2 linked regions of the Homo sapiens genome follow. The protein of the gene in region 1 purifies or fractionates together with the protein of each later gene. This does not show direct contact. Each region holds a gene or a part of one and is shown on either strand. Other genes may lie near its edges. The genes, in order: OPCML and NCAM1.

Region 1 (3,820 bases):
TTTCTCCACGTTGGAGTTCACTGTGCAATCTGATTGTCACTTATCGTTTCCCATGCTAAGTGCAAGGAGCCATTCCAATCAACGGCCTGTGTCCCACTGCATCAATTCATCTTGGCCTTTCCGGGGGTCTCTCAGCACAGCATCTCCGCTCATTAACGAGAATGCGCCTGCATCATAATGATAATCCTTTGCACTTACCCAGCACATTGCCCAGGGGGTTCTCAAAGCATTTTGTAAACTTTTAATTAAGTTAGGCTAGTGACTGCAGGATGGTCCCCAGCCTCTCCGAACCAAGAGGTCTGGGGTGGGGGTGGCGACAGGACGTGATGGGAGACAAGCAAAAGCCCTGCCTCTAGCACCTACTTACTGGCTCTGGGGCGCAGAGGCGAGTGGGTGGATGTGCAGGGAATCTCTGCGTTGCTAGGAAGAAGCACTCACACATGTATGGCCGTGTCTGGCACAGGCAGCCTGTGGGCCTCCTGCCATGTGTGCCCACAGGGAGAGCACCAAGGCTGGGGGCTAGAGTTGGGAGTTCTGGAAAGGCAGATATAGAAGGCAAGAGGGAAGACTTGCTTTCCTTAAAGAGCTGTGAATGTGATTTTGAGAGTAGCTAAACTCTGGCTTGGAAATGCATGTGTGCCTTGCGTGTATATGTGTGCAGGAAGGGGCATGCATCTATGGTTGGCAAGGGGGTGGTGAAGAAGAGAGGAGGGAATGTATGTTCACATGCTTAGAGGAAGGCAGTAGCAAGCACATTCATCTTCAAGCTTCTCTCTGGTTTTGGATTTCTTTTGGCTCCCTTCTCAGGGCTACCTTTAATCCTTCCCTGAGCCATACAAATACCACCATCTTGGGGTATCAAGTGAGTGGTGTATAAATCCAGCAAGTGGAACTACATCCATGCCCTACTGTGTTAGAACCATCCCCACCCCTCAGGGAAAATGCAGAGGCAACCAAGGCTTTGCAGATAAGTAGCAAGTTGTAAGTCTGGGTCTCCCACCAACAGCATAAAAGGCAAGAGGGACAAATGTCCTCAGGACCTAGCCCTGCACTGAGGACTGGGATCAGAAGGAGTGGGAGAGCAGAGCCGCCCCAAGGTGAAGCCACCTGCCTGGCCCTCTCTGTCTGGAAAGTGCCAGTCGGTATCAGAGGTGCTAACATCCACTGCTCCTGACAGCCTGGCTTGTCAGCAGCCACAGACCATCTGGGGGCTGACACTTGAGCTCACTGACAGGAATCACAGTTTGCTTCCATATCTCTCTGTCTCCAGCCCCAGGCAGCTGCAGGCAGATGGCAACAGTCCATCTGCAAACAGGGCTGCAGGCTGATGGGGTCCCTGTCCAGCGGACCAGCATCAGAAAAGCCAGTGCCCATAGGCCAAAGGCTATTAGATGGGGCTCCTGGAGTTCCAGCTGTCCAAGGCTGACATACAAGTCCATGTATCTAGCACCCCACCAAATATACCACAAAGCAACGTTTTGAGAGACCAAAGGTGCCATGTCTGTTGCCTTAGTTTTCTACAGCAGAAAAACTAAGACCTAAAAGCTCAAAGTCAGAATGCATATTTTATTGGGGGTCAAAAAGAAGAAAAAGCTTAACAATTTCCTGTTTTACTCGATTAATGATTTTTGAGGCAGGAGAATATCTTAATACATTGTTTAATCAGAACGTATATAAAGTCTTGTTCAATAAATGAAGGAGTAGATTGTCTTTTACTAATTTTCATCACTGTGACAAAGACATACATATATGGTCAGTATGATTCTACCTTATCTTCTCCCATTTTTAACAATATGGAATGTCCTCTCCCCTTCTCCAACATGCGAGTTGCCTTCTCTCTTTACCCTATTCCTAGAGGACCAGGATGAGTTTTTTTATAATAAAAATTTAGAAGTGTTTATTTGTTATCATCTAACCTAGGTGTTCAGCTACTCTGTGCAGTTGGAAACAAGGTTCATACATGGCTGGAACCCATTCTACAGATTGGTAAACTGAGACTTAGAGAATGCCTTGAACCAACCAAATAAGCCTCAAAGAGCCACTAATCAAAGAGATCACTCTCAGCTTTCAGCATACTTAGAGGTTTGGGTGGAGTCCCACTTAAAGGGAAGTGCACTCAGCCCCAGGCAGCCCTGACACAGATTTGAGGCTGTAACCACCAGAGATAGTTCCCAGTAGCTGGCATGGGAGACCCAGGCCCAGAGCTGCTAGACAACAAATGCAGGCAAGTGCCAGCTGTCTAAAGAATCTCCTTCTGTAATTTTCTAGGTTACAGAGATGTGGCCAAGGGTGCTAAGAATTCGAGAAAGCACAAAGGCAGACAGGACCGAGGGAACATGGGAGAACCTCAAGCCCGTCGGGATCTCTGATTAATCTCAGGTTGAGTAGTGCTGCCCAGTTCCAGGCTACTGAAAAAGCCATCTTCATGAGGCAGCTGATGCTATCTCCTTCTCAGCACCTGCTATTGCCACTGGGCCCATGCTGAATGCAGATGACGCAGTCTAACCTTATTAACATGTCGATCATTTTTAAGGGATTGAGGGCCACATGATGGCGTGAATCCATGATGGGCTAAAGGACGATGGGAACTTGCTCATGACCAGATGCTCTGTCCTTGTTCCTATCTCTTTCTTAGTGAGTCTGGCGCGTGGATTCCCCCACTAGACCCCTTGTGCACATCAGGCACTCTTAGCAGGTTCGCCGGCTCTGGGCTGGTGAGAGGCTAAGGAGCAGGAAAGGAATTCATCAAAACTTGGCTGTAGAGCCTGCCCCCAGGCCTTACCCCAAAGCCAAACATCCCAGCCCAGAAACTCAAGATTTGGGGACTTCCCTGAAGGAAGAAGCAGGAAGGTGTGTGCTAGAGAAGGAAGAATCCTAAACCTCGGGGGATTTTCTATCCAAGCCCAGGGTTTTCTGACCCTAAACGGGCAAAGCCTGTTTAAGGTGCAAGAGATGAAGTTGTACCCAGAACCTGGACTCACAGATCAGCGCATGAAGACACAGCTCAATCCAGGTTGGGTAAATGGGGACCCCTCCCAGCTAACTCCCCTGCTTAGAGTCACAAGACGAAGGAGATACAAACAGGATGGGCCAAGAAGAAGGGGACAAACAGGAAGTCATGGTCTGAATTTGAGCAAAGAAGTCTTCCAAGTTAGCAATCCTTGCATCATGGTGCTGGCCCCTGGAAGGACTTGGGCAGCACTGTGCCTCAGGAACTGAGCCTTGGCTGCTGGCAATGACAACATCTTCTTGCCCTTACTCCACCCTGCCCCATGGCCACAGAGCCATTTCTCAAAGCTGGAGGAGAAAAGACAAGAAGAAGACAGGTTTTGACTCAAATACTCAAATACTCAAATACTGTAGGCCATGGTCACAGGTTTTAAGTGACAGACAGAGTGGTTTGCAGGTAATCAGAAGGACCTGGGATGCTAGTTCAAAATGCTTCCGTCTGAGACGAGGACAGGGACTCCACATTTTAACCTGCCTCTCTCCTCCTAGGTGATTCTGATGCACATATCTAGCAGTATTCGCTTCCTGCTTCCTACAGAGCCCCCAGACCCAAGGTCAAGAAGGCCACCAGCCCAGACTATCTCTCTCCTCCTACTAGAACAACAAAATTACCCCAACCAGGGGTGTCCAGAGCCTCGGACTGTGCCTCTAGCATGACAAGTCAGTTGGCCACGGGCCCTCTGCCCTGTCTTGGGTGTGGGCTCATCTCAGTCTCCACGTGGTGACTGTCTTTTCCATCCCAGAAATTCTGCCTAGAAAAGCTATTTGTGATATCAGTGGAAGGTACCAGGCGACAACAGCATTAACCTTA
Region 2 (3,820 bases), about 21 Mb from region 1:
GTAAGGTCAAGGTACCATATTTAGGGCACAATGATGTGCACCTTCAGTCCCAGCAACTCAGGAGGCTGAGGCAGGAGCCCAGGAGTTTGAGGCCAGTCTGGGCAACACAGTGAGATACCATTTCAAAAAAAGGTATAACATTTAGAGTTTGATTTGTTTTGTTTTTTTCACACCCTGTCGTTAACTGACTGCTTAGATGCTCAATACGTAACTTTGCTGTCATTTCTTCCTCCCCACCCTCACAACCCATTCAGTTTCTATTCTATACCTTCTGACGTACTCTTACTCCACTACAGACTGCTTCACCCTCTCTTTGATCCCACATTCTTCCTTCGATGACAGTAGCTTCCAAACTCTTTTGACCTGAGCCAAAAGAATGTATTTTCCATTACAACCAAGTTACATATTACACAGAGAGAGAGAGAGAGAGACAGAGACAGAGAGAGAGAGAGAGAGAAATTGAAGTACTCAAAGCAGTACTTACCCTTATATAAAACACACTCTCTTTTTCCACTTCTTCCCTCCTTCTCTCCCTCCTTCCTCCCCTTTTTCCTTCCTCTCTTACTTCTTTCTTAATATATATGGAAGCCCGTTAAACAGATTTCATCATCCATAGTTTGAAAAATACTGACCTACAAGTTAAGGTATTAGGAGGCCCAAACTTTTTCTAAAACCTAACCTGTCTCTTAATTTCTCCATCATATTTACAGTACCATGATTATTTAATTTCCTCGAGTTTGTAACTTCAAAGATCTTTCTCCCTCTCAGTCATCTACCATTTGGGATCTATCATCTACCCTTGGTTGCTTTGTTATTTCTAACATCTCAGCTATGCCCCCTTTATCCTTATCCAAAATCATTACAAGTGTATCTTTCCAAAATTTCCTGCTTTAGAAAATATATCATAGTTGGGTTTCTTTAATCAAACAAGCACCTCTAGCAGTACATAAAATTTGATTTTTATTTTTCAGCAACATGTCTACTAATAAAATGTATAGCTGTGAAATATTTCATTTACAATGCATTTCCCATATATTATCTTATTTTGTTCTTATATTCGATTGCGGAAGTTACAGTTCAAAGAGGTTACATAACTGATATAAATTCACTTGGCTAGTTAGTAGCAGAGCAACTTCTTGAACCCAGATCTTTCGAATCTAAGCCCAATGGTGTCCTTTCCCCGCATACAGGTGTTCCTACTGATTAAGCAAGATACTTTCATTGGACTTCACTAGCCTCCCTTCTCCTAGTATCATCTAGTTGATGTTTCATACAGCAATAAAAATCCCTTCGTTAGCCCTTCATTTTGTCCGACCACCATAGTGGATGCTATATAAAACCAGAATTCCCTTTTAGTGCTGCAATGAACTATATGAATTTGTTCCTACTTAACTCTCTGCTAATTCCCAGCTAGTCCCAAACATAGAGCCTGAGGCAGCACACGCTCAGTTGCTATTGTTAACTATCCTCTTAAACATATATATATATTTTTAATTTCTCTGTCATCTCCAGCAGGACTCCTCTCCTTTGTCTGACATTTAAGATTTAAATATGGCTTGCCCCAAGTTCCAGCCTTTAACTGCTCTTCAATAGCAATTCTTTGGCCAGATCCACCTCATCCTATAGGAAAACAGGCCCTCTCTCCCTATTTACCTTCATATCTGTGGAGGTCCAGGTCAGTTCTAGCTTTTCTATACCTCTTTTTTCCCCCAGACATTAAAACTAATAGACATGATTTTTGCCTCTCAATTTTCCCAGTTTTTACCTGCCTGCTTCATTCGGGCACTTACTGATATAATATCTTTCATGATTTCTTCGCAGCTTGAACTAAGCAAAAGTGCTTCCTCTCCAACCACCTGAAAGGGTCAGTATAGTAACCTTAAATTTATTTTGTTTTTCCTCTAAGCCTCTAGCACAGAACTTTGCACATCATATTCAGAGTACTGTACACCTTTTTAAACAAACATTTCAAATAAAATATCTGACCACAGGGAACTTTTTTAAAGCACATAATGAGTACATACTTTATATCTGCTTTACATATGTGGTTTTATTTCAGCTCACCAAGACCCACAAGGGAAGTGTCATTAACCCCATTTTACAGATGGGGAAACAGGCTCAGAACGACAGCAACTTGCAGAATGGCAGGACGGTTCCTTCAGACCACAGCTCTGAATAGTGCCCTTCCTCCCCATCACTCCTCCCACACTTTGGTCAGACTCAGTCCAGAAGCCACAGGAATTCCTGTTTGCTTGGCATGTATTCAGATGCTATATATATTCAAATTATCCTTGCCTTAGAAAAGGATAAAATTCAGACAACGAACGTAAGTTGCAGTCCCAGCTCCACCTGCCTAAGTCATTTAACCTTTCTCAGTCTCAGTTTCCATTTAAAGACTTACAATCTGGACTTGCAGAATTTTTTTTTCTCCTTATCTCTGGCTACTCCTCCCCACTACTCTCACACTGTTCCCCATGTACAACCAGATTCAGATCTCAACCACTGCTCAGGGTGTCTGCTCTGCCCAGATCACCCCTTCTTCCTGCTCCATCTAATGAAAGCAATTCTTCCCCAAGCCCAGCTCGAGGGAGTCCCAGGCAGAATTAATTGCTTCCTTTCTTGTGGCCCAACAGCATTTACTTCATGCCTCTGTTTATAAGTATAGTATGTCTGTCTCCCCTCCTTCCAGGTGGTAAGCTCTAAAGGCAGATGTATTATTTTCCTGGACTTCATAACGTGAAACTCCACACGATTCCTGAAGCTATCTGACCTTCTCCAGACTTCACAAAGGTTTGTTGAGTTAAGGAATTCAGGAATGTTTGTTGTAATTCAATGTTTGTTGAATTAAGTAGTCAATCAACCATGCCCTAAAATGAGAATACCATCTGTTCTTCCTATTTCACAGTTGTTTAAATGTTACATCTTCACCTCCCCAACCACCCAATCCCCCTTGATAATCTCTCATCCTGGGTTTTTCTTAGACTTGAATCTGAATATGTAATTATAAATGTATGTGTTACTTTTTAATGTCTATATTTCTCTGTACTACTAGACTGGAAACTCCATGAAAACAGGGACGATGTACGTTTAGTTCACCGCTGTATTCCCAGCACCCAGCACAGAGCACGTACTCAGTCAATATTTACTAAATAATTAGTGTGAAGATTAAGCACATATCAAAGTGTTTTGTAAACCATAACGTGATGATTAAGATATAATTATTGGTATTATATATCCAGTTTATCTCCTTTTAGATAGCTAAAACAAAATCTTCAGTCTCCTCTCCAATATCATATGCCTTTAGCTGGCAAAACTACTTCTTGCCCTGCCAATCGGGCACTTACATCTCACTCATTTGAATAATAATAGCAATTGCTTTATTTTCTTCTAGTTAGTAATTTACAAGAATATCGGCAGTGACAAATATCAAATCAGCTCAGATCTCATTTAAGATCTTCTGTCAAATAAAAGTGAAATACTTCTTTCTAAAAATGACTTTGACTTCAATATATGATTCTAATCTTCAAAGCACTACACATACAACCTCTATGAGGTCCACGTTTAATAAACTGGAACGATTAGTTTATATTCCCAAGCAAGTGGGTCCAAGTGGACCAAAGGATAGTTGCTAAAGAAGGACCAGAAGTTTTCAGGGTTCCTCAACTGCATGGACTCCTTCCAAGGCTCTGGGGGACTGGGACTTGGCAATGTGTTCTCATGGTCATGTATTCAACTAACCTTCGCAAAAGCAAGAAGAGTTTTGTATTTTCCTTAAAGAAGGCCCTCAAAATTATATACCCTTCAGGCCCAACAAGACCTA

The links.
Region 2: the proteins of OPCML (region 1) and NCAM1 purify together in Homo sapiens (affinity purification with mass spectrometry; one large-scale study listed by BioGRID and IntAct). This does not show direct contact.

What each region holds. Positions count from the first base shown.
Region 1 is NC_000011.10:133,525,779-133,529,598, forward strand, and holds part of OPCML (opioid-binding protein/cell adhesion molecule isoform b precursor), read right to left. Parts: intron 1-3,820. UniProt on the Homo sapiens protein: Binds opioids in the presence of acidic lipids; probably involved in cell contact.
Region 2 is NC_000011.10:112,967,864-112,971,683, reverse strand, and holds part of NCAM1 (neural cell adhesion molecule 1 isoform 2 precursor), read right to left. Parts: intron 1-3,820.